Linked DNA regions of Homo sapiens. The protein of the gene in region 4 purifies or fractionates together with the protein of the main gene of each other region. This does not show direct contact. Each region holds a gene or a part of one and is shown on either strand. Other genes may lie near its edges. The genes, in order: ITGA8, POGLUT1, PAM, ART3, CHD1L, ARSK and NAGLU.

Region 1 (3,500 bases), on a different chromosome or scaffold from region 4:
TGCAGTTCACTTAGAACTGCAAATCAAGCCAATAGTTGGAAATGCCTACTCCACTTTTTAACCTTACTTAAAGCGATTGCATTTGAAGTTGATAAATTATGAAATTTGGGGGAAGTCCCTCTGAGAAGTTACCAAGCAGATTCCAAACACTGGCAGTGAGATAGTTCCTGGGAGGGAAAGAAACACAAATCTGTTTCTTGACCACAGAATGTTTTACATCCTAGTCCATGTCTTCCCATAACAGAATACAGTGCAATTTCCAGTGCTGGAATGGGGGCGTCCATTACTGGCAACTGTGAAGCCCTTTGATTCGTTTCAATTTTGTGACACCTTCTGCTTTACTCCATAGAGTGCTATTTAGGTTTATTTATTCAATAAGTTAAAATTAATTTTGTTTTGACAGTTTTAAGGATGGCTTTGAGTCATGGGGTGCTGAAAAAAAGTTTGGTTGAAGGTGTAGATGGAACCTGCCTGTCTGAATCCTTTGTCTACTTGACTGAGGCAAGTAAACATAACCCGAGCCACCCCATCAATGAGTTTACTTTCAACAAAAACATTTTTTTCCCCACTTTTGCTGAAAGATGAAACGACCCAGGCAAAATCTTAGGGTGTGTCATTTGACACCAATGACAAATAACTGACCCAAACCACAGGCTAACCCAAAGTGTAGCCAAGCTCAAGAATTTCACGCAGCATAGTTTTTGGTAGTTATTGGAAGTGTATACTTTCTCCAGAGAACCTTTACATAAATACCTGTAATTCCATTAGATAGAAAGTACACATTTAGTTATTTAAACTTACGGTCTAGCCGACAGCTTCAAGTCAGGAACACACAGATTGTCTTCTCCACAGTCCACCAGAATGTGAGCCTGTGTTGTATAAACGCACGTCAGGAACAATCTAGGAAAATCTGATTCACATCCTTTTTCTTGAAAATTCTGAATGGTGCCACAAACGGAACCAGAGCTTTCCTCTCACTATGCATGACTCTACCCAAGCCAATAGCCTACATTTCACAGTGACCTCCCAATACAGGCTACTTTACATAATAGCCCAATTCCAATGCACTCTGAAATATCTGCAAAGAATGCAACTCTGCCTATGGCTTGAGGATTACAGGCTGTATTGCTTCCATTACAGCCACATTTTGAACAAATTAAATCTTGATTGCACAAGAGGAAAGGCTTCCGAAAAACACAATCATGCAGTGTTTCAGGAAACATGGTAGGAAAACTCCCAAATGTTCCATGTCTGCATGCAGAAGTAAAAATGAAAGGAGCTGGCTTTAGTCTTAAAGCCATGAGAACAACACCCCAGAGAGCTTGCTTGAGAAAATGCCGTCAAAGACTGTGAAGGACTTACCTGTTCACTAACAATGTTTTCTCTGTAGTAGTTCAATATTGGTTTCACTTCCAGGCCTTCTTTAAAGGTGGATTCGTCCAAACTGTAATTCAAACTAATGTTGATTGGAGATAATTTATCTCGGAATTCAGTTTCATCCTAGGAAAAATAATCACAAACTCAACAGAGGCTCCATGAAATAGCTGCAAGATGTCAGTCTGCAAAAGTCAGGCAACACTGGAATTTACTCAATGAAAGTGAATGATGAAACAATTATCTTTGCAGCAGGCTTAGATGGAGGCTGATTTATGTGGTATATAGTAGCCAGCATACCTAATATATGTGCAGTGATGAAATCATTTAGAGCTGCGGCTTCATTGAAATACGCTTCTGGAGCCAATCTTTGGGTTCTCCAGACCTTCAACAACTCATGCAGAACTGGTCAAGTTGCAAAGTAAAAGATTACACGTGTATATCATAAATGTCACAAAAAACATCATGAATTTGGATTTTTATTTTCGTGAGGTTGCCAGAATTTATGAGTTCTCTCTTGGGGCTCAGAAGAAGAAAACATCTTGATTCTCTTCCTCTCATCATCTTTTTAAGCCCTTGCCTGCATGAACTTCAGAACACCTTCAGGATATTTGAAGTTCTTTTGGAAAAAGAAACAGAACTCCTTTAGTAGAGAGGGGTAAGCACCAAACAGCAAGCACTAAACACACGGTGGATATGTCACCCTTCAATTGTTTGCCAATCAAGGGTCAGGTATCCAACTTTTCATTCTTGAGTGTGATTGTGAACCTGTGATCTTCCCTAGGGTGGTCCTTGCTAACTAAGTCCCCTAATGGAAAAGAGAAATTGAGACAGTTATCACAACCTCACAACCGGCAAGGTGAAGATAGGTAATTGTGTTATAAATATTTTTACTTTAAAATTTCGGTAGGTTTTGAAGTCATTGTAAAAAGACATTACTTTAAATAAGATAATTATAAGTTACTTCTAATAAAAGCTTTGAATGCCTAAATATTTTCCTGAATTGGCTCTGAAACATGCATTGATAAAATCTAACAAGACATACTCACATAGGAGAAAAATTCACATAAACTGTGTTGCACTTTTATGTATTTTGGGGAGGAGGTGGGTAGAAATGAAAACCATGTGAGCTGAATGCCATTATAAAGATTTTGATCAAAATGAAAAGAAGCCTTAGAAATTAATAGCAACACATCATCAGGTTAGTTGAAGTCAGGGTCAAGAGGAGAGTATTTGACCCTAAAATAAAGTTTCCTGCTATGAAAATGAAAACAGACAGATGGGGGTCTATGCAGACAAACATGATGGTTAAATGGAGAAAAATGGTTGGAATTTGGATATGAAGGAGAGAGGCCAGAGAAGTCTTTCTGGAATACTTACTCGAAGGTAAACGATGAAATCCTGGCACTGGTGGGATTTCTGCCTTTTTATCACAAGAGGGAAGACGCGATGAGCCTGATGGTTATCAAGGAAGAGCGTCCGTTTAATAGCTCCTTTCTGTTTCAGGGAATCTAATTGCACCTCTGCCATCAAGACTAAAGGACAGAAGTAAAGTAGAGAAAAAGTATTCAGTGAACACAGTGCTCTATCAGAGAGATGAATTTCTATTTCAAGTTGCTTATTCAGGAAACAGTTCTTTTTCATAGTTGAGACCAAGCATGATAAATGAGCTGGAAAAATTGTATAACATACTCTCCAAGCTACAAATGTTTTATAATGGTTTTATAAAAGTTGTCATTTTCCCTACAATTATATGTTCTTATAAATAATAGTATTACCAAGTATTGAAGTAATATTTATTAGAAGGTTCCATATATGCAACAGATATCTTGGTATTCCTCAAGGGTTCTTTCATTTTTTTATGGTCTGTGCAGAGAAATGGTTACTGTTCAACTTTCTTAGTATACCATAAGAATGTAAAAATGAAAACATGCTTACCTATTGTGTTTGCAATGCTCTGGCCTGTGACAGATGCACATACTCTTAAAGAAAAGCTATAGAAAATAGTAGTAATTTATTGGTTAATAAAGTTTTGAATCTAAAGTAGAAGCCTTCCTTTACCTAATCCCAGATAACGAATATCATTTTCTCTATATATTTCTAATTACACACACACACACACACAC
Region 2 (3,500 bases), on a different chromosome or scaffold from region 4:
AAGGTGTTATCCAGTTACTCCACCGTGTAGTTATTAATACCATTTTCCCCCAGGTAAACTAGTAAGCAATTTTTAGGCAGATAGAATGTTTTAAAGTCTAATCTTATATGAATACTTTTTTCTTTTGATACCTTCCCATTTTATTCAATTGAATTTATTCATGGTTATAGAAATACAATTTTGTTTTTTAGAACCCTCTGTTTAGAATCTCTAATGATGTTCATTTGTTACCTTGAAAATTTAATAATCTGCTTGTTTATCCATCTGCACTGATGTCTGCCTGCCACTGTTCATTCTATTTTTCTGATATTTTGGGAGTTTGTGCCCACTGATTTATATTTCACTCTGTAGAAGAATTCATTGTTCTTTACAGATCGAAGATTTCATTTGTTACTGTCAGAGAGGGTTTAAAAAAGAGGGCTGGGGTAGCACCAGGCTGTGGTGGCCACCGTTAGCACTTGCCTGGAGAAACAAGTCCTAACCTAGGTCTTTTGAGGGAGGATGGGTAGGTTAGGAGAATGAAAGAGAGAGAACAGTGATACACAGTTTGGGTTTGTGTATATGAAACACAGCTTCCCCAGGAGCCAAGGAAATAAAGAGAAGTAACTTTGAGTATAAATTGATACATGTTTTGTTAGATAGTTTGACAATATGTATCAAAATTGGAAATGTATACTGTGTATCCTTTGACCTAGCTGTTTCATGTCTAGAATGTATCCTAAGGAATTAATCAGATGAATGTGCAAAGATTTGTGTACAAGGATGTTTACTACCATGTTGTTTCTTAGAGCAGAAAGTTGGAAACTACCTAAAAGTCCATCAATAAAGGATGAAGTGAATCATAACATGACTATAAAATGGAATTTTTGCAGTGAGTCTTTGCCAGAGATTATAAAATGGAATATCGTGCATGAATGGAAAGGCAGTGTAGGTTTTAAAAACTCTGGGTTCAAATCCTGGCTCTTATTAGCTGCATGACTCTGTGCAAGTTGCTTAACCTCTAAAGGACCTCATTTGTAAAATAGGGGTGATAAAACCTACCTCTTAAGATTGTGAGAATGATTTTTTATTTACAAAGCACTTAAAACAATGTCTGTAACATAGTGAAGTGCTATATAGATGTTGGCTGTTATTATTATTTATATTTCCTATTAAGATTGTTACCTAACAGTATGTATGGTGTGACCTCTGTTACATAGAGCAAAGTTTCTCAGTACTAGTGTTGCTGACATTTGGGGCTGGATAATTCTTTGTCCTGGGAGCTGTCCTAACCACTGTAGGATTGTTCAGCAGCATTTCTGATCTTTACCCACTAAATGCCAGTAGCAGTCCCCTAGTAGTAACAATCAAAAATGTCTACAGACATGGCCAAATGTCCCCTGGGTGGGAGGGACGGGCAAAATTACCCCCAGTTGAAAGCTACTAATATGAATAAATGATTGCAAGGAAATTCTCGGCTAAAATGTTACATTGTTACCTCTGGACAGGGAGATTCCAGACGACTTCTTACTTTTATCTTTATGCTTTTTCATGAGAACTTTGCATGAGGAGCATGAAACATTTTCCACTAAAAACAAAACAACAAAAATCCAGTGCTATAGTGTCTCTGCTTGGGCAGGAAGAAGTATGGGGAAAACAAGATAGTTCTGGCCTTAGACTGGAGAATCAGGTAAAGGTGATCCATCCAGAAAAGGCCAGAGGATGAGCCACGTTGGCTGAGGGTGGAGGTCTGAGGGCCTGGAAAATACTGAGCAGCGTTCTCAGCTGAGTGAAAATGAGCAGCATGACATTATATGTATCTGAAAAGGACCTGTGCCTAGAAAGTTTATATCCTAAGTTTCTCCGTTACTGTAATCCAGCCCATCAATCCCTCATTAACTTCAGTTCAGCCTTCCCTTCCTTTTTCAGAGAAGATGCTGTGCAGACTTCTGTGCAGGGAGGGTTCCTACGAAGCAAGTTAAGAATGATGCATCTGTGAGCTAGCAGTTTCAGTAAGGAAGGCTGGTCATGGTAATGTGTACTGAGATCTGACTTTCAAGGACTTCATCTTTATAGAGCACTTAGTCTGGCTTTAAGAATACAAAGGTGCTTTTCAAATATCAAACTAAATCTGATGACACTTCCCACCTATGGAAAACATAAAATCAGAGAGTGATTTCCCTTTCATTCCATTTCTGATGCTTTTTTATTTTTTTGCAGTTCTGTACACATAATTAATTTCATCAGTAGCACCCTACTTAAAGTACAGAGGAAATCCACATTTGCCAAATTATAAACAGACCTAATCATGACCTTCAGGGTTTGGGGGCTTTTCTTTCAATGTTGTTAACTTGTTAATGGGGAGTAGATTTGTAGATACAACTGGGTAGCACCTCCAGAGCAATGAAATGGTAGCAAAAGGAAACAAAGTGTCCTTTAGGGCTTTTTCTTTTGAGTGACTTTGATTAGACTTACTTAGAAATATGAAGCTCTGGCCAGGCACAGTGGCTCACGCCTGTAATCCCAGCACTTTGGGAGGCCGAGGCAGGCGGATCACGAAGTCAGGAGATAGAGACCATCCTGGCTAACACGGTGAAACCCTGTCTCTACTAAAAAATACACAAAATTAGCCGGGCGTGGTGGCGGGCGCCTGTGGTCCCAGCTACTCAGGAGGCTGAGGCAGGAGAATGGCATGAACCCAGGAAGGGGAGCTTGCAGTCAGCCAAGATCGCGCCACTGCACTCCAGCCTGGACGACAGTGCGAGACTCCGTCTCAAAAAAAAAAAAGAAATATGAAGCTCTGAACTAATCTTCAGAAATGGTTAAAGCACATTCTTATATAGTTGAAAAAGATATATTGAAACTAATTAAATTCTATATTCTTAGGTCAGCAGCACAGTGGCCATGGAAAAAGAAAAACTCTACAGCATATTTCCGAGGATCAAGGTGAGTTATTTTCTGACATTTTACAAAGATATTCTTCCAAGTAATGTAAAATGTAAGTAACTTTGAGGGTATGACAAGCTCTGTAGTTCAAAGGGAAAGCTAAGATAACAAAGAAAGAAATGTGGAATCACAATTTTAGATTCGAGAATAATTCACATTATTTGCCGAAATCGCCATTGATTGAGTTGATATTCAAAGAAGTAAAGTTCATCCATTTCAGTCATTTAACAGATATTTTACATAGTGTCACAAATGTGTCGGTCATTGATTATGTGATGCCAAACACAACAGATGGGTGTCTTCTTACAGTCCCTAGGAGTAGCTTATGATCATGCCACGGTACTCTGCTGGTTAATGCAGAGCAGGACTCATCACCATATCTCTTGACTGCCTTTTTTATCACACCCTGTGGCTGCCAAATAGTGGTTAAGAGCACAGACTGAGACTGCTGAAAATGAAGAAGGGAGCAGGGAGGAAAGAGAAGAGAAAAATGGCAAAGGTAGTAGGAGGACCCTGTGTTGTTCAGCTCCATAGTCCCAAGGCCAAGAACAGTTCCTAGCATGTCAATATATGAT
Region 3 (3,500 bases), on a different chromosome or scaffold from region 4:
ATGCTATTCAAAATTAACTAATATCTTCATAAAAGTTCCCTTCAAAAGAGTTCTAAAAGATAACATAAGTGCTTAAAAATAATAAATTCTATCTTTAAAATATTCTAAACTTCAGACTTTTAAAAGCTTGAATTAATCTTTATATAAGTAAAATGTTACTGCACTACAAATGAGTACTATTTTAAAACAAACTTACTTTGGCATAAATAAGTGAAATTCTCAAGATATGAAATTTATAAGGCATTTTTAGCCACGGAAAAAGCAGGTAGTAGTATGATTCTTCCATAAGGGCCTCAGACTTTACTTTTATTTATTTCTACCACTGTTTTTGTTTTGCTTATGTTGTACATGCAGCAGTGAACTGTACACTCAATGCAGGTAAAAACCGTCCTTTGTTACTGCAACTGTTGGCTGGACCTATTATTCTTTGTGCATTTGCTTCCCAGTACTTGTGGCCCACACTCTCTACAAAATGAGCTTCTCCTATCTGATAGGGAAGCAGATCTGCTGCTTTGATTGTTTCCTTAATTCTGCGGTGTCATTTAAAGTTGTACTTTAAAGTATTATGTTTTATATTTTTTGAGTCCAGTTCCCTCCTTTCTTGAAGCTACCCTCTTAAACTCCCTGAACAAGAGCCATCTGGAAATCTTGTTCCTGTCCTCCATCCTTTCTGTGAGACCACACCAGCACAGCTGGGTTGCAGCAGGCACTGCCGAGGTGCTGCTGGACTGGCTATGCTCCAGACCCTCACTGTTAACATGCAATTCTTGTCCTTTTGTGTTAAGCATGGTTAGTAGACAAAGCTCAAGACAGTGTTCAGCAGTTCAATCTCCTTTGGGCACAGATCCTAATCTCACAATCACACATGATTTGAGTAACGCTGTTTATATGTAGAACTTCTGTTGCTACATGGTCCCAGTCTGCCCAGTCTCCAAATTGACAGTGTAGATACTTTTCCACTTTTCTTTTCCCCAAGAGGCCTGAACTAAGTACTGTATAGGTTATCCAAACAGAAATATTTTCTTTGTATTAAAGGGACTCCTGTGAATCTAACATGAAGTCAAACATCATTTTTATGCTGTCGAAATCAACAACTTCTACTGTCTCTACTCACTCACCAACACAAACAAAATTTGAAGCTTTAAACCAGCAATGTCCAATAAAACTATCTGCAATGATGGAAATTTTCTATATCTTCTCTGCCCAGTACAGTATCCACTAGCCTTGTATGGCTATTAAGCATTTGAAATGTGGCTACTGCAACTGAGGAATGGATTTTTAAAATCGTATTCCATTTTTAATTAATTTATACTTAAATTTAAACAGACAATGTGGCTAGTGGCTATCAATAATTAAGGGTCTGAGATTTTTATCCTACTTGCAGGCTAACGAAATCAGGGTGCCACAGTTTCATGGGGATGCTGGAAGAAGACAGAAAATTCTAGGGTGAGAAACAAAGGACTATACTACTCACAAAAATATCAGTAGCAGTAGTATCAGCATAGTTGTGCCAATGTCCTGAAACTCAGTTCCCCCCATGTGATGTGAAGCAGATACTTGATGATCTGCATTGTCAGAGGGGAACCCTGAGCTTAGGGTACTTGAATCTTTTAAACTGGACAGTAAAACCTACCTGCCCTTTGCTTCAGAGGGAAAGAATACCTCTATCTTCCAAAACTATCTACCATACAAATGTCTTTAAGAGAGTCTGGGATGAAAGCAGTAAATGCCTTTGCTCACAAGACATGCAAAAGTCTGAGTGACTAATGGAGAATTGAATCCCAACATAGGGGTATCATACATATCTCTGAAATCCACTCATCTCCCACCTGCTTGAATACCTTGCTTTTAGCCACACTTAATTTCTTCCTATGACCACGGTAAGCTTCCAAATGGTTATCTTTCTTCCACCACTGCCTCCTCCCACTCATTCTCTATACAGTAGCTAGACTGCATCTTGTAACACAAATCTCATCTTGTTTCAGTCTTCAATGTCACCCACTGTCCTTAGAATTAGGCCACCCCTCCTTAGCAAGTTCCACAAAGCCAGTGCTTCCCTTGCTTGTCCGTTTAAGGTTTATGCCTTTAGCCACATTAAACTCCTCTCAGTTTCTTACATGTAGAGGTCATAAAGTGGTGGCCCTAGGTTGAATTCCAACTACAGATTTGTCTGGTTTGGCCCACAGAATAGTTTTTAAAACATTTGGGTTAGTTCATATTTGGGAGATTTCATATTTATAAAATATGAATTTTAAGCTCCTCTTTAGAAATCAAGGCATCTGGCAACACTTGGCCTGCATCCCAACCTGACAATACTTGGCTGAAATGAGTATCTACTTTTCCCTTTAGACAGCTTGGATTCTCCAGATTGCCACGCCTCTCCCTCCTGCTCTTACCTATGTATTGTTTAACATTTTCTGCCTGACTTCCATTCTAAGGCATCATGCTCCCTTTGGTCTCTTTCAATCTTCCCACCTCTTCAGCTGCTAACTACCACTCATGCTTCAGGTCTTCATGTATTCATGCTGCTAGGAAGTTTTCCTTCACCACCACCAACCCAATTAGGATGAGATGATGCACTGTGTGACATTCACCTACCCAGGACCCTGCTATCCTATCTTCTGAGGTTCTCTTCACTACCCTTATCATGGCATGAATCATATGGCATTATAATTTTTTAAAAATTTTCTTTATAAATTTATAATTCTCTGTTTACAGATCTGCATCCCTCTCTAGACCTTTCAGTCATAAGAAAGTGACTATAACTGTCTTGTATACCATTGTATGTCAGTGCCTAGGAAAAAGCCAAACGTTTAGTGTGGGCTGAATAAACACTTGTTGCATAAATGAATGAAAAAAGTTAGCTGAGGAATGGCTATTTCAAAATATTGGGGAAGAGTGTATTTATATTTTTATATATGTATTCATTTTTAAAATGTGGACCACTGAAATTCCATTCCTTCCCCCCTCCCCCTACCCTGGAGAAACTAAAATAACTACTTGAGTCATAGAGCAATAGCTGTATACTGGCAATGTGCTAAGAACCACACATGGATTAGCTCATTTAATGCTGACAACAGTCCTTTCAGGTTAGTATTTCATTATTCCCATTTTGGAGAGGTAAACATTCAACCCCAGATAAAATGAAGGCCTTATTCTCCACAACACAGTAAATTGTAGGGATACATGATGACTGAAATTTCTGCCAGGATACCTGAGAGCACATGACACCAACAGCAGCTTTATTCACAGCCCATCTTTTGAGCTATTTGTATGTGGTTTTAATAATTAGCTTTCGCATTCAAATGGTAAAGAAAGTTCTTATACACACAAGAAGCATTTATGGCTATTATACCAGATGACACGGCTTCCAGGGCAGTAAGAAGGATCTTTAATCTCATTTCACAAATAGAAAAACAAAGGTATGGAACAATAAAGCCAAGTGTAAAGTTAACATTATGTCCCTCAGGCTGCCCCTCAGCCTGCCATGCCTTAATGTG
Region 4 (3,500 bases):
ACATCAGTTTATTTCAGGCTACCTTTTTTGTGTGTAAGGATTGAAGCATCGGGAACTTCATTTATCAAGCTGATTGAAGATTTTAAAATGGCCAATTTGGGAAATTCTGTTATTTCTTTCTCCTGATTTCTTAGAAGTTCAGACAACTTAGTTTAGATGATGTGGAACTTTAGCATGGGTGACTCCATTTCGATTTTTAGTCTGGTCTGTTGGGGCCTTCTGCAGAAACTTAGTCTGAAGCAATGGCCTCCTATAATTTTTATTTGACAGTAGCAAAAATTTAGAAACAACCTGTGTCCAACCATTGGGTATTGTTAAATAAAATATTACCTATATTATGAAACACTAAGCAACTTAAAAATCATGTTTTCAAAACCATCTAAAGATAGAAGAAAGTACTCTTAATACAATGGTAAATAATTGGATATAGAACTGCATATAGAGTATAATATTAACTTTTAAAAATGTATATGTATATATATGTATGCATAGCAAAATGATTGAAATACACCAGAAATGTTAAGAATGAGTAGAGTATTTCCGAGATCTGCAGTTTTAAGAGAACTTTAATTTTTAATAATTTTCTGTATTTTTCCAAATTATCTATAACGTATTATATAGTTAGGAAGCATATTTTATATATTACATATAATGCCAATTTTGGGTCGAGGTCTTTGGGTTGAATTTTTAAAAAACGAACAAGAGGTGCTTAACCTAGGAGAGATTCTGGGTCACTAGCCTTAGTTCTTATCATCAGTTAGGCTCCAGTGGGTTAAATCTCTTCTTTTTGTTACCTTGTCCTCTGCCATTTCTCAAAGCGTTCTGAGTTTTCTACTACAGAAGTCAAGTATAAGGTCAAATTAATTTTCAAGCTGATGGCATTTTTTTACTAAATAGTTCTTATTCTCGTCCTTAGGAATAAAAAGCCAGAGGCTCACTGTTTCACCTGGGAAATAATCTATTTACTGAGACTAGCTACATGGTTAGGAGACGATAAGGATTCCTAGGATTAAGAACATTGTGAAAAGCCAGCACGGTGGCTCACACCTATAATCCCAGCTCTTTGGGAGGCGTAGGCAGGAGAATCATAGTGAGTTATGATCGTGTCATTGTACCCCACCACAGCCTGAGCGACTCAGCGAGACCCTGTCTCTCAAAAAAGAAAAAAAAATATTACTGAGCCTGGAGAGTTTGAGGAATGAGTTAGACAAGAACAAAGGGACTTCATTTATTGAGTACCTTTTTTCGCTCCGTGCAGTGTACCAAGCACTTTTATGCAGTCTTTCCTTCAATCTTCACTAACTACAAACCTAAGAGGTAAATATTTCTCTTGCAAAGTGAGAAACTAAAGTTAGGAGGGATTAAGTAGTCTGCCCAAAGTCACAGAGCTAATAACTATAATTACGATAGAGCTAAACCAAGCAGAAATGTAAAACCAGTAGTGTTTCATCCAAAAACTGATATATTGGGACTGCCTTCTGAAGATAAAGCTGGAGAGACGGGTTAGATCGTGGAAGTTCTTGAAGTCCAGGCTAAGGAGTTTGGACTCTGTCACATGGAGAATGAAGAGCCATTGAAAGGTGTTTTTGTTGTTGCTGTTTCTTTTTTCTTTCCCCCTGCCTTTTTTTTTTTTTGAAAGTTGGAAATGGAGGAAATATAGACAAAAGAAGAGTATTAACAGTATAAGATAACTGATTAATACAAACCAATATTTATTTCTGCCTTTAGGTGTGAAAATCCTTGAACCCACCCAAATACCTGGTAAGACAGCTTTCTATTTACTCCCTGAGCCCAAGAATGAGTTGAGCAGGATTCCCAGGCATTTAAGAGAATACTGTCATGAGACTATTATTCATGAATATTTCCCTTATAGCTACCTGCCAGTCATCTACAAATATTTAGCTGGGGAAGCGTAGAGAAGTCTCTTTCCTCCTGTGCATTCATGTGCTCCTGGAGCATTGTCTCTGGGGCAGGAAAGTTAGTTCTGCTCTGGATGTTGCTGAGGGGAAGGCTCCTGGGATCTGGATGCATCAGTCCAACACCTTCCAGGTTCTACAGCTAAAGTTATTCAATAGAAACCTACCTTTACGCACAAGTTGACTGTTAGTCTTGGCTAACATCTCATTGCCTGTATCTCCAGGTAACAAAACACGATATTCTCCTGGCATAAACATGCTCAGTGAAGTGCTATGGCAGAAGACTCCTCTAATCATGGTGTGGATTTGTATAATAAGGGTTTACGTAAGCAGAACTTTTAAATAAAAAGCCAGAAACTATAGTGCATTGGGGCCTTGGGTGCTTGCATCTCTTAAGCTCAGCAGACAAGAGTTTGAAAATTATACTCAGTGGAGCAAACTGTAAGTCATTGGAAACTTCCTTCTCATTTAGGAATGAAAATTCCAGAACCTTTTCCACTACCTGGTAAGCAACTGATAGGCATGCCAGAGGGGAACATGCCAGTTTGGGGAGTACAGTCACCATTAGATATGCATGGGACTTTCTATGCCTCATAATTGTCATCTATCAAATGTAGCCATCAGTAGTCACATGTACATGACAGGAATATTTGTAAGGACTATAAAACCATGGAATCTCAGGGTGCAAGCCACTGTCCAATGCATAAATCCCTTTCTCCTGAGTTCATGTAGTACTTTGAAATATTTTTTTGCAGGTTTTGTTATTATGGAAATGATGATCTGTTAAGGAAATTAGATATTTGGCATCTTAAAAACTATATCCAGCCACACAGTGCTGAACTTCACGTAACGCTGCTGTCAATGGAAGCTGCGTGCTGTATAAAGAAACAGCGTTTTCCATTAGTTAAATAAAGGCTCAGAGAACATAGGCTCAGAGAAAAGGGTCCAGGACCTCTTTTATATTGACCCAAATTTGCACTGTTGGATTTATTTGGCCACAACTTTGAAGTGAACCTCTAGTGACACTGATGACACACCTTGTGCGTCTACATCTCTTCAGCTCGCTAGTCCTGAGTTTGCACAGTGCCATCATTGGGGTCTTGCTCATCTGGCTATCTGAAAGGCAGCCACCGAGCATGGTGGGAGATGAACATGAGCTGTGTAGACAGATAGACCTGGCTTCAGGAAGTCTCTGCCACTTTCCTCTGAGTAGCTTTATATAAGTTACTTCACTTTCTACGCCCCTGCTTTCACATCTGTAAAATGAGGAAAGCTTCTGTCTTGCAGGACTGATGAGATAAAGTACCTAGCAAAGTACCTAGCAAAATGAATGGTGGTAACATAGTAGTAAATGGTAGCTGCCTTTGTTATTATCTGAAAACCTCTTTCTTGTTTAGGAATAAAAATGATACAACTGAATGAAAAACCTGGTAATATATTCTTTATTGGGGGTGGAGGCACCATGGATTCTAAGTCCTTTACCATAATCATTCAGTTAGTTCAGTCTTATGGGGTCTGGGGAAGACATCTGGGCTGTACACTTTCCGATATCCCAGTCTGCAAGCCAGACAGGGAAAGTGTTGA
Region 5 (3,500 bases), on a different chromosome or scaffold from region 4:
TTTTCCAGAGCTGTAAATAAACCACCTCTGCCCCAGTGGCCAGAGTCATCTGTTTGAAGAAAGAGAAAATTTTCATCTATAGGAGGTGAAGTCCAGTGCACAATTTAGAAAAACAAAGGCACACAAAAGGGACTTGTGGAAGAATGATTTTTCAAAGGGAAGAAACAAAATATCTTATCTCCTAGGAATATCACAGGTTGGACTTCCCAAATATGTTTATGTTTTCTGGAAGATATAGCTGGGGCCATGATAACAGGAAAGCATCTCAAAAATTAGGGTTCTCAATGAGCAAAATCTCTGTGGTGCATCTGTGATTCCTGGCAAATGACTGCGGAAGGACGGAGAGTAGATGGAACATTACAGAGTGAGTAGAAGCAATAGGTTATGCAACAGCACATAGGCAAGGTTATGAAACAGTACACAGGAAAGGTTAAGTGACTTATTCAAGCTGGTACTAACAAAGCTGCTTAGTATCTTAGCATTTATAGTCATTCATTCACACTACAAACGTTTGGTAGCATGTATTACACGTAAGGCATCGTTCTAGGCACCACAGTCACAGCAGCGAACAAGAAAAAACCCCTGCTGCCATAAGTGTATTTTTTAATGCAAAGCAACAGTCAAATAAACAAATACATAGGTAATGTGTCAGGTGGGACAGGTGTGATAAAGGAAAATATGGGAGAAGGGACAGAGAATAACAGGGGGGATGGGGCCTGTTTTATATGAGGTAATCACAGAAGACCTCTCTGAGAAACAGACATTTGAACAACACTTGATGTGGTTATTTGGGAAGAAAGGGTTTTAGGCAGATGAAGTAAAAAGTACAAAGGTCAAGCAAGGGAACAAGCTTGAAGTTTTGCTTTTTCTCAAAGGATTTGTTTGTCTTATCAATGTTGCTTCATTTCACCCTCTTAAAAACCTTGTGCAGAGGATAAGACAGATATTGTCCCATCATATGGATAAGGAAGTTGAAGTTGAAAGGTTGGGTAACTAAACCAGGTAAATGAGAAAGCCAAGAGTGAAATGATTCTGGAATATCTCCTGACTCTAAAATTCACACTTTTTTGACTGTACAATACTACACTGGGACCACCACCCCAGTCCCAGTGCCCCATCCTCCCCAGTTCTTGGCACCATAAGGACTGAGGCCCCCATCCCCAGCCCATACCACTTCTCGTACCTACGCAGTGCACAATGAGAGCATCCTCGGCCCCAGCCTGAGGGTGGGTGACATCACCACTAACGTACTTGAGGGAAGTAGCATCTGGGTCTTGGTAATCCAGCTCAGCAGAGCTCTCTTCCCCATTCTCAAGGTCCTCTGGCTCGCTCTCCTCAGAGGGCAGGCAGAAGGACTGGTAATTGTTGGATTCCCACCAGGCCATCCTTTAGCAGGCCAGAGACAAAAGGAAATTAACCCAGACAATCACAATTTCCCTTGGAGCACATTTTATACTGCTGTTCACAAACAATATCTGCCAAGTAGAAATGCAATTAGAAACTCACCCTGATTGAAGTTTTCTACTTATTTGTAAACAAGTCTTACTGATTAGGCTAACTGCTTCCTGACTACAATTCAATAATGAGCACTCCCTGAATGTTCCTGTTTTTAAGACTAAAAGAGATTGTTGAAGTAAATTATTCTTTGTCAGATAGCTACAATAAAATCTTAAAATCTTCTGGTTTTGGCCGGGCATGGTAGCTCACGCCTGTAATCCCAGCACTTTGGAGGTCAAGGCAGAAAGACAGCTTGGGCCTAGGATCTTGAGACCAGCCTAGGCAACACCGTGAAACTCTGTCTCTACAAATAATAAAAAAAATTAGCCAGGCATGGTGGCACACACCTGTGTTCCCAGCTACTAGGGAGGTTATAGTGGGTAGATCACTGAGCATGGGAAGTTGAGGCTGAATGAGCTGTGCCCATACCACTGTACTCCAGCCTGGGTAACAGAGCAAGAACCCATCTCAAAAGAAAAAAGAAAACAATTCTGGTTTTAATGGAATGCATCTTCCCTGCCTTATACACTGAGACTTTTCACTTACCTAGAGGAAATGTTTTCAGAAAGTATTCTGTTACCAATAGGAACCAACTTAAAATGAATTTTCTGTATTTTTAAAGTGATATTCAACTGTGGTCTCACTATACAATAGTGACTCCTTCAACTGTGGCCGCCAGCTTGGTTAACGCAGACATACTTTTTCTTATGTTCAGCCTCTTCCTTTTGCCTCTTCTTCTCCTCTATGAGTCTCCTTCTCTTGGCAGCTGCTTCTTGTCTTTTCTTCTGTCTGTCCTCCAGCTCTTCTGGACTCAGAACCCGCTTCCTTTTGGTAGATCCCTCCACAAGGCCTGGGATGAGAACCTAGAGGAAGAACAAGATCCATCACCAGGGTCAAGAAGATTCCTCCCCGAATTTCATTATCCCTAACACACACTGTACGGAAGCAACATGCTTAATATTCCACAGAACACTGCATCTCCACACACCCTGCATGGTGGGAACTGGAGGCAAAGCACTTGGAGGCACTGTTCATACTACACACTTCACAGGCACAGTGACCAGGATACCATGCTGTAAACTCAGCCCTAGCATTGGCATGGTTGAAACAGTCATTTTGATTCATTTCATTAGGAATAAGTTACTTCAGAAAAGTAACTTTTTTCCTTGACTAAAAGCATACCCTGCAGGATGCCACTTCAGCCATTTTTAATGGAACTCTTTCTGCAATGTATTATGTAACTTTTTTAAGATTGTATTTCAACATCATGATTATCTTAGTGATAGCTAGCATTTAATGACCACGTTAACTGCCAAACACTGTGAACACTACATATATCATTTATGATTGCCATCCTCTCTTCTTGTCATAGGGTCATCATTACCAACAGCAGGATATGGTATTTTGGTATAATATAGGAATGCCTTTAGGGGTGACTTGGATGGACAAGGCTGCTTTCACCTACATGACATCGTACAATATATTCTCTCCTTTATGTTTTTCATGCTGACTTTTTTACATAGTTTTTATACTAGGGTATAGTTAATTATAATAACATTTCAGCAAACACATACTTATTTCTTGACAAATCATCCTAAGAGAACAAAACGATGCCAGCATCATTTTTTTGTTTGTTTTAGAATGAGAGTTTGGAAGAACAACTTTTAAATAAATTAACAGTTCTTACACTGCCTTTATTTCGGAGTGATCGGCCCTCTTGACTAGCTTTCTCCAAAAGGGTTTTCTGAAGGTTTACCAGTTGTTCAAATGATTTTCTGTCTTCCTTACTGGGCTCTTTAGAATAATCTTTACCTTCAAATAAGTACATATGATTTTCTAACAACATAAAACACAAAGAGAGAAATGTTAGATACCAAGGAAAAATAGATTAATGCTATTCAAATCAATAACAAAAGTGGACAGGAGAACAGCCTATATTCTAAATGGGCTAAGTCCATATGAAGGAAGGTATTTCATTTCCCATCCCACTGACACTGAAGAAT
Region 6 (3,500 bases), on a different chromosome or scaffold from region 4:
TATTCATAAAACTCTAAATTCATATATATTCATAAAACTCTAAATATACTAATAAAAGAGACCCAAATATACACAGTTCTATATAAACTTCTTTAAAAAAAACACAGAAATGAGGAAAAGTAATAGTGATCAGCTAGAAACTAATGGAATGAGAAAGTGGCCCAGATATGGCTGAGTGTGATCATTACTTTGGGATAAAGGGAAACCAGCAAATGATGACTAAGAAACAGAAGAGATTAAAAATTCAAAGAACTGGCCAGGCTTAGTGGCTCACGCCTGTAATCCCAGCACTTTGGGAGGCCGAGGCAAGCGGATCACAAGGTCAAGGGATCAAGACCATCCTGGCCAACATGGTGAAACCCCATCTCTACTAAAAACACAAAAATTAGCTGGACATGGTGGCAGGCGCCTGTAATCCCAGCTACTCAGGAGGCTGAGGCAGGAGAATCACTTGAAACTGTTAGGCAGAGGTTGCAGGGAGCCGAAATCGCACCACTGCACTCCAGCCTGGGTGAAAAAGCGAAACTCCATCACACACACACAAAAAAAAAGAGTTCAAGGAACTGGAAAGAAGTATGTGTAATTATATGAGAAGGGATATGAAATAAAAGAGGAAAGGACGCTGGTTTAAATTAACTCTAAATAAATTTAGTTAAATTAAGGGAAGAACTTTGTGGCAGAAGGAAGCAGATAAAAAGAACTCTGATTTCTTTGATTTTAAGATGCATCTTTCTTTCACATTTTAACATTTCTGAAATTAGAGAACATAACTTGTGCTATTTTTTTTTCTTTCACCAAAATTTATGAATTGAGGGTACTTTTTCCAATTGATGGTGCCTTAGAACAGAGAAACTAGTGTTTAAATGCTAATGAATTTAAAGTACTTTGCTAAATGAGATAGAAACTAGAAGTTAGTTCTATGATTTCCTTTGAATTTGATTATGTCGTTATTCTAGTATCTTCAACAAAAACTGCTAACTACCCTTATCCATATGTTGCTTTTCTAGACATATGGCTATGCTTGTAGACATTAAGAAGCTAGTAAAGCAAATAGTACAGAACTATCTAAAGAGTCTGAGGAGGAATATGTTCATACTAGTTTCAAAGTGAATAGAATAATTCAGAAAGGAAATGCTTACATTTTAAGGAGGTGGTGGTAGACAATCAAATGATGTACAAATCATATCTATAAGGTTATGAACCCGAATATCTTACATGGCTTACTTTACAGTCATCTCCTGAATACAAATCTTTTGAGGGAAAATGACTATAGTAAGTGAAGGCCACAGGGACATGAAAAACAATCTCTTCATTCTTCAGAGTACAGATTTGACTCACAGTTGAATGAGTTGCTCAGGGTTATAAACAAGTCAGCAGGACCTCTGACTACTAACTGAAAGACTGACTCACTGACAACTTCAGTTGCATTCTCCAGCATTATTACAAATAAATATTTACAGAACTACATTACTTACCAAGCATGGTAGGGTAAATATCCACAAGAGAAACCACATTTGATACTTGTAGGCCGGCTTTAATTCCTGGTCCCATCATCAAAAGCGGAACATGTGCACTAGCCTCGTACATGCTCATTTTATAAAACTGTCGATGTTCCATGGCCAGCTCTCCATGGTCTGAGGAGTATATGACAATAGTTTTCTGAAGAAGATCTAATTGATGAAGGGCCAAAATAATTTCACCTACAATAGAAATCATGATAAACCGATTAAAACTTTCAGTTCATGTTTTATTCTATCACATTAAGTTTATAACCACTCTACCCTATAAGAGTTTGTCACTATGCTTCTTAACATCTGAATATTACCTACTGTTCTCAAGTTAAGTCTAAAGTTGACAGTGGTCTGTCTACTGCTTGCTCTTCAGCTGACTAGAGGAAGAAGAAAATATAATACCCATGGGAACTCTTGCTCAAAGCTGCTTATCTGGAGATCATGCCGGCTTGTTTTCTAGGTTTCTACCAGAGAATAGGGGAAAAAATCTTCCCCTTAGTGCCTTGAATGAGAAAAGAAAGATCAGTTGGATATGAGCACTTTACATGTCTCAGATGATAAAAAGATTGGTATCACCTCTGACCCACAGTTTCTGTGCAACAGGAAGTGATAAGAGCAGTCAGAACTCTTCTTCTCTGCTACTTTTTCTCCCAAATCTCTAAGCAATCACCAGATCATGCTCATAAAGTTGGCTGAGGATTATGGAAATCCCACCTTTGAAGAAGGGCTGGAAGCAGGACAGATAGTGTACAAGTTTGATTTAGCATCTTCTTGGATAGGGAATAATGGGACAGTAAAATTCCTCTGACCAGTTCCTGTCTCAGTGTTCTCGAACTTCCTCCTACTGTAATTAAGAGAATCACAAGAAAGCACAGGCCAGAGAGAAGGGTCATCCCTATTTTGGCAGTTCCTGAATCTGGGTAGAAGAGTGTATATTAATTTAAAAACCTACAGATTCTGAGGTGTAATCAGGATTGACATTCACTGCTCTATGGAGTTATTTGCAGAGTTGAGACTCTCTTGATTTTTCAACTGGACAACTGGAATTACTTACTAATCGGTCTTGCCCCTACTCCTCTTTCCCCTGCTTGTACTATCCTGGTGTCTATCTTTCTAAATTACCTAATCACTCCATTGTGTCACATCCCTGCTTGAAACTTTTTCATAGATGCCCACTGTCGAATTCTTTAGCATAACAAGCAATGCCCCTGTCCACTCTCCACACTCAGCACCCTCGGCTACCTGCTAGACCTTTACGTTTCAACAATCCTAACCTGCTCAGAACCTCCTAAACACACACCATATTAGTTTACGCTTTCTTGCCTCTGCATATACTCTGCCATTTATGGTGAATGCCCTTTCTCCCACAGTCTACTTGACAAATTCCTATTCTTCCTTTATGACCCAGCTCAAACATGCATTATCTCTCTAGCAAAGCACCATTCCCTGCTCTTCTAGGTAGAGTAAATCACTTTGTTCTTCAGGATGCCTACAACTTGCATATTACTGTAGTCACAACAACACATTGTAATTCTTAGCATTTATGCTCATTCAATAAATGTTTACCGATTATGCTCATTCAATAAACGTCTAACTGGCAATAAATAATTGCCAGTTAGAATGGTAATTATTACAAAGTCAAGAAACAACAGATTTTGGAGAGGTTGTGGAGAAATAGGAATGCTTTTACACTGTTGGTGGGAATGTAAATTAGTTCAGCCATTGTGGAAGACAGTGTGGCAATTCCTCCAAAATTTAGAACCAGAAACACCATTTGACCTAGCAATCCAATTACTGGGTATATACCCAAAGGAATATACATCATTCTATTACAAAGATACATGCACATGTGTGTTCACTGCAGCACTATTCACAATAGCAAAGACATGGAATCAACACAAATGCCCACCAACAATAGACTGGATAAAGAAAATGTGGTACATCTACACCATGCAATACTACGCAGCCATAAAAAGGAATGAGATCATG
Region 7 (4,277 bases), on a different chromosome or scaffold from region 4:
AAGCAATTCTCCTGTCTCAGCCTCCTAAGTAGATGGGATTACAGGCGCGTGCCACCATGCCCAGCTAATTTTTATATTTTTAGTAGAGACAGGGTTTCACCATGTTGGCCAGGCTGGTCTCGAACTCCTGACCTCAGGTGATCCGCCCAACTCGGCCTCCCAAAGTGCTGGGATTACAGGCGTGAGCCACTGCGCCCGGCCCAGAGCTTAAGTTTTTAAGTCATGTTCTAGAAGGGAATAAAATTCCCTCTCTGAGCTAAGTGGAGGGGGTGAGCGGAACCTCACCTGGTGACAGCCTCGGGAACATGCCCCGCGAATGCAGGCAGCACTGGGGTCATGCCGAAGGAGCGCATCTGGTCCAGGACCCGGTGCTGGAGGAACAGAAGGAAGGGTGGTGAGCATGGCCACTGCTGTCCTATGAGAAGGCCCTCATCTCCCAGGATACACGCAGCCCCCCGCCTCAGTTAAGAGCCCTGGGGCCGGCCTAATACCACCCTTCCTGGGCCCATGACCATCTATCACCGATTCTGCCCCTTCCCTTTTCCATCCTTTTACCTGCAGGTAAAGCTGCTTGATGTGCCAGGAGGGGGGCAGGGGGCCATCCCAGGTGTGCAGGTTGCCCATTCGCCCCCAGGCCAGGAAGGCAGGACCAGTAAAGAACTCATTGATCTCTGCCTGGGTCAGGCCCAAGGCCAGGTACACCTGAGGAAGAAGGGCCCACACATAGAAATATATTCATCTTCATTCATTCATTCATTCATTCAACAACCATTCACTCATTGCTTCTTTGTGCTGGGTGCTAGGGCTACTGAGACAAAATCCGAACGCTGCCATCAAGGAGCCCACAGCCCAGAGGAAAGAGACCTGTGAGTAGGTGAGTTCACTGTGTTGCCTTTGTCGCATGGGTGAGGAGATGGGGCACAAAGGGGCTTTCCCCCAACAGGAAGGCCTTAGAAGGCTTCATGGAGCAAGAGTGCCAGATGGAAGGGCAGGGCAACTGTGTGAAGAGCTTAAGCAGAGCCTGGAGCAGCCATTGCAGCACAGAAGCTTCCAGGGAGGCAGATCTAGAGCTGCCCATGAGTTGGATCCAAGGGACCAGGTGATTGGCTGCATAGGGGAGATGGGGGAAGGAGCCCCACTCCTCAAACTGGAAGCCTCAGTTTTTTTTTTTTTTTTTTTTAGACAGAGTCTCGCTCTGTTGCCCAGGTTGCTATTTCTTTGTATTTTAGTAGAGACGGGGTTTCACAATGTTGGCCAGGATGGTCTCGATCTCCTGAACTCCTGATCCGCCCGCCTAGGCCTCCCGAAGTGCTGGGATGACAGGCGTGAGCCACCGCGCCCGGCCGGAAGCCTCAGTTTTTAGGAGGCCCAAGCCACTGTGCACGCTGAAAGCACTTCTAGAGAGAGACACTGCGCCCATGCTGGGGGGCGGGTGAAAACACCTACGGTGGCTCCCGCCATAGAGGAGGGTGGGGAAGGGACAGTGGGCACGCACCCGCTGCCAGATGGCCTCCTGGCCGCTCCAGGCCAGTGCCAGGTTGATGCCATTCAGCGCCATCCAGTCTATCTCTCGCTCCCAGCGGGCCCAGTCCCACCACACGAAAGAGTAGCTTTGCGTGCACACATTCTGGTAATAGCGGTACCTGCGGGCAGTGTCATGAGCAGGGGCGCATCCCACCCTGGAGGGTCCACGGCCCTGGAACAAATCCCCCATCCCCCACCTAGAGGAGAGGGGAGGGGCTCCAAACTCGGCCCTTCTGCTGCACACTGGGACCCACCCCAGGTGGAGCTGAGACCAGGTACCGGGGCTGGGCTTCTGAGGCACTCGTCCCCTGCACTCTCCCAGGGCCCTCTAGCCTGGCGGGTATTTGGGTGGCATATTCCACTTTCATGCCACACTGCCAGAGCCCCTCCTCTGCACGGTGTTTTCCTGGAACGGGGAATCCCTGCCCCCACAGTCTAACAGATGGGCAGGGGAGGACAGCTGTGTGAACACATCACTCCATAGTGTGGCAGGCGCTGGAACACAGGCCTGTAGGGTGGGGGATGGAGGCGTCCTTCCTCAGTCCGCAGGTTCAAAGAGAAGGTGGGGGAGGAAGGCAAGAAAATTCACTCATCACCAATTGTGCACCACAAATTCTATGCCCATCATCGTGCAAATCCTCACAATAACACTGCACGGTAGGCGTCTTCTTTCCGTTTTTCAGGTGGGCCAGCCGAGGCTCTGAAAGGCAGAGTGGCTGGCTCAAGGCCACACAGCTGCTGGAGGCGGCGCAGCTGGGCCTTCCGGCCAGCGCTCCCCGCTCAGCCTCCCGATTTGGGTGGCAGCGGCTCCGGGAGGGGGTAAGCGCCTCGGGCGGACGCGGGGAAGCTTCGGGGCGGTACCTGTTGGGCGTGGCCTCGGTCAGCTCCCCCGGCACGGCTGGCAGTGGCCGCGGCAGGCGCAGCTGAGAGCCGGACCAGGCCACGTGGCAGCCACAGAAGTCGCGCAGGTAGCGGTGCAGCCCCGCGGCGGCCGCCACGCCCGTGGAGCCGCGCACCCGCACGCGCGCCGCGCCGCCGCCGCCCAGGCTGTAGGTGTCCAAGCCCGGCTTGGCAGCCAGAGCGCGCTCCACCGACACGGAGAAGTCGGCCGCGGGGCCTGGCCCCAGCAGCCGGGCCACGAGCGCCCGCACGGCCGCCGCCTCCCGGGCCTCGTCGCCTGCCGCGCCCCCGGCCCCGGCCAGGAGAAGGACCCCCACCGCCGCGGCCACCGCCACCGCCTCCATGGTCTCAGTCCTGCGGGTCCCGCGACGGCCAGGGGGTGGGGCGGCCCGCGTCCAATCAGCTGCCGGCCTCCGGCCACGTGGACCCGAAGGCTAAGCCCGGGCTCAGGGCCAGGAGTCGCGGCTTCCGGGTACCAGGATACTCCCTTGGGGGCGTCTCGTGACCGCACGCGGTGGGGAGCGTGTGACCCCGGCTCCAGGGCCGAAGGGGACCCGCTGGCCCTCACAGAGCGCCTTCGGGTAAAACGCGCTTTCACACGCAAATAACTTCCATCCAACCATCTAATAAATACACATTTGGAGTTTATTTTGTATCAGGCACTGCCATAGCTACTTCCCTACTGATGAACGAGAAGACGGTCCCTACCGTCCCCGTCAGGGAGGTGACCTAGAAACCAGATATTTAACGTAAGTAAGGATTTCCATCATAGTTGTGATGCTGCGAAGTAGTGCAGTAAGTAGCGAAGTAGCGAAGTAAGGTTTCCAAAGGAAGTGACTTTTAATCTGAAACTCAGGGATGAATAGGAATTGGCTAGAAGAGGGAAAGGAAGAGCCTTCCAGACAGAAGAAATGCATTTATTGAAGGCCCTGAGAAGGCAGAGAGCTTGCAGATTTGAGTAACTAACAGGCTAGGAGGTTCGAGGAGGGATGGGGCCATGTGAGCCCAGGCCGGCGGTGGAGCAGGGCTGGCGGGCACGTTAAAGGCTGTCCATTGGCGGCAGCAGCAGCAACATAACAGGAGCTGTCATTTTGTCAGAAGTTTCCAACCAGAGCGACTCCATCTTGAACAGGGGCTGGGTAAAATGAGGCAGAGACCTGCTGGGCTGAATTCCCAGGAGGTTAGGCCTTCGTCACAGGATGAGACAGGAGGTCAGCACAAGATAAAAGGTCACAAGACCCCGCTGATAAAACAGAATGCAGCAAAGAAACTGGTCAAAACCTGCCAAAACCAAGACAGGAAGGTGACCTCTGATCGTCCTCACTGCTCATTATACGCTAATTATAATGCATTAGTATGCTAAAGACACTCCTAGCAGCGCCAGGCAGTTTACAAATGCCATGGCAACGTCCAGAAGTTACCCTATATGGTCTAAACAGTGGAGGAACCTTCAGTTGGGGGGGATCCCCACCCCTTTTCTGAAAAATTCATTACTAACCCACCCCTTGTTTATCATATAATCAAGAAATAACCATAAAAATAGCCAACCTTAGGCCAGGAGCGGTGGCTTACGCCTGTAATCCCAGCACTCTGGGAGGCTGAGGCTTGCAGATCACCTCAAGTCAGGGGTTTGAGACCAGCCTGGCCAACATACAGTGAAACCCCGTCTGTACTAAAAATACAAAAGTTAGCCAGGTGCTGGGCGCGGTGGCTCACGCCTGTAATCCCAGCACTTTGGGAGGCCAAGACGGGCGGATACGAGGTCAGGAGATCAAGACCCTCCTGGCTAACACGGTGAAACTCCATCTCTACTAAAAATACAAAAAATTAGCCGGGCGTGTTGGCGAGCGCCT

What was found.
Region 1: the proteins of ART3 (region 4) and ITGA8 purify together in Homo sapiens (affinity purification with mass spectrometry, with the first as the bait; 2 studies listed by BioGRID). This does not show direct contact.
Region 2: the proteins of ART3 (region 4) and POGLUT1 purify together in Homo sapiens (affinity purification with mass spectrometry; 3 studies listed by BioGRID and IntAct, with this or other methods). This does not show direct contact.
Region 3: the proteins of ART3 (region 4) and PAM purify together in Homo sapiens (affinity purification with mass spectrometry; 3 studies listed by BioGRID and IntAct, with this or other methods). This does not show direct contact.
Region 5: the proteins of ART3 (region 4) and CHD1L purify together in Homo sapiens (affinity purification with mass spectrometry; 2 studies listed by BioGRID and IntAct, with this or other methods). This does not show direct contact.
Region 6: the proteins of ART3 (region 4) and ARSK purify together in Homo sapiens (affinity purification with mass spectrometry, with the first as the bait; 2 studies listed by BioGRID). This does not show direct contact.
Region 7: the proteins of ART3 (region 4) and NAGLU purify together in Homo sapiens (affinity purification with mass spectrometry, with the first as the bait; 2 studies listed by BioGRID). This does not show direct contact.

What each region holds. Positions count from the first base shown.
Region 1 is NC_000010.11:15,604,923-15,608,422, forward strand, and holds part of ITGA8 (integrin alpha-8 isoform 1 preproprotein), read right to left. Parts: intron 3,369-3,500; coding exon 3,313-3,368; intron 2,910-3,312; coding exon 2,755-2,909; intron 1,501-2,754; coding exon 1,363-1,500; intron 870-1,362; coding exon 802-869; intron 1-801. UniProt on the Homo sapiens protein: Integrin alpha-8/beta-1 functions in the genesis of kidney and probably of other organs by regulating the recruitment of mesenchymal cells into epithelial structures.
Region 2 is NC_000003.12:119,482,463-119,485,962, forward strand, and holds part of POGLUT1 (protein O-glucosyltransferase 1 precursor), read left to right. Parts: intron 1-2,865; coding exon 2,866-2,925; intron 2,926-3,500. UniProt on the Homo sapiens protein: Dual specificity glycosyltransferase that catalyzes the transfer of glucose and xylose from UDP-glucose and UDP-xylose, respectively, to a serine residue found in the consensus sequence of C-X-S-X-P-C.
Region 3 is NC_000005.10:102,758,305-102,761,804, reverse strand, and holds part of PAM (peptidyl-glycine alpha-amidating monooxygenase isoform e preproprotein), read right to left. Parts: intron 1-3,500. UniProt on the Homo sapiens protein: Bifunctional enzyme that catalyzes amidation of the C-terminus of proteins. Alpha-amidation is present at the C-terminus of many endocrine hormones and neuropeptides and is required for their activity.
Region 4 is NC_000004.12:76,102,209-76,105,708, forward strand, and holds part of ART3 (ecto-ADP-ribosyltransferase 3 isoform a precursor), read left to right. Parts: intron 1-1,728; coding exon 1,729-1,761; intron 1,762-2,140; coding exon of another isoform or gene 2,141-2,241; intron 2,242-2,388; coding exon 2,389-2,421; intron 2,422-3,313; coding exon of another isoform or gene 3,314-3,500.
Region 5 is NC_000001.11:147,284,184-147,287,683, reverse strand, and holds part of CHD1L (chromodomain-helicase-DNA-binding protein 1-like), read right to left. Parts: intron 3,334-3,500; coding exon 3,185-3,333; intron 2,361-3,184; coding exon 2,197-2,360; intron 1,387-2,196; coding exon 1,184-1,386; intron 50-1,183; coding exon 1-49. UniProt on the Homo sapiens protein: ATP-dependent chromatin remodeler that mediates chromatin-remodeling following DNA damage.
Region 6 is NC_000005.10:95,589,601-95,593,100, reverse strand, and holds part of ARSK (arylsulfatase K precursor), read right to left. Parts: intron 1,701-3,500; coding exon 1,476-1,700; intron 1-1,475. UniProt on the Homo sapiens protein: Catalyzes the hydrolysis of pseudosubstrates such as p-nitrocatechol sulfate and p-nitrophenyl sulfate. Catalyzes the hydrolysis of the 2-sulfate groups of the 2-O-sulfo-D-glucuronate residues of chondroitin sulfate, heparin and heparitin sulfate.
Region 7 is NC_000017.11:42,534,764-42,539,040, reverse strand, and holds the start of NAGLU (alpha-N-acetylglucosaminidase precursor), read right to left. Parts: upstream 2,801-4,277; 5' UTR 2,769-2,800; coding exon 2,386-2,768; intron 2,225-2,385; coding exon of another isoform or gene 2,168-2,224; intron 1,644-2,167; coding exon 1,496-1,643; intron 703-1,495; coding exon 556-702; intron 372-555; coding exon 286-371; intron 1-285. UniProt on the Homo sapiens protein: Involved in the degradation of heparan sulfate.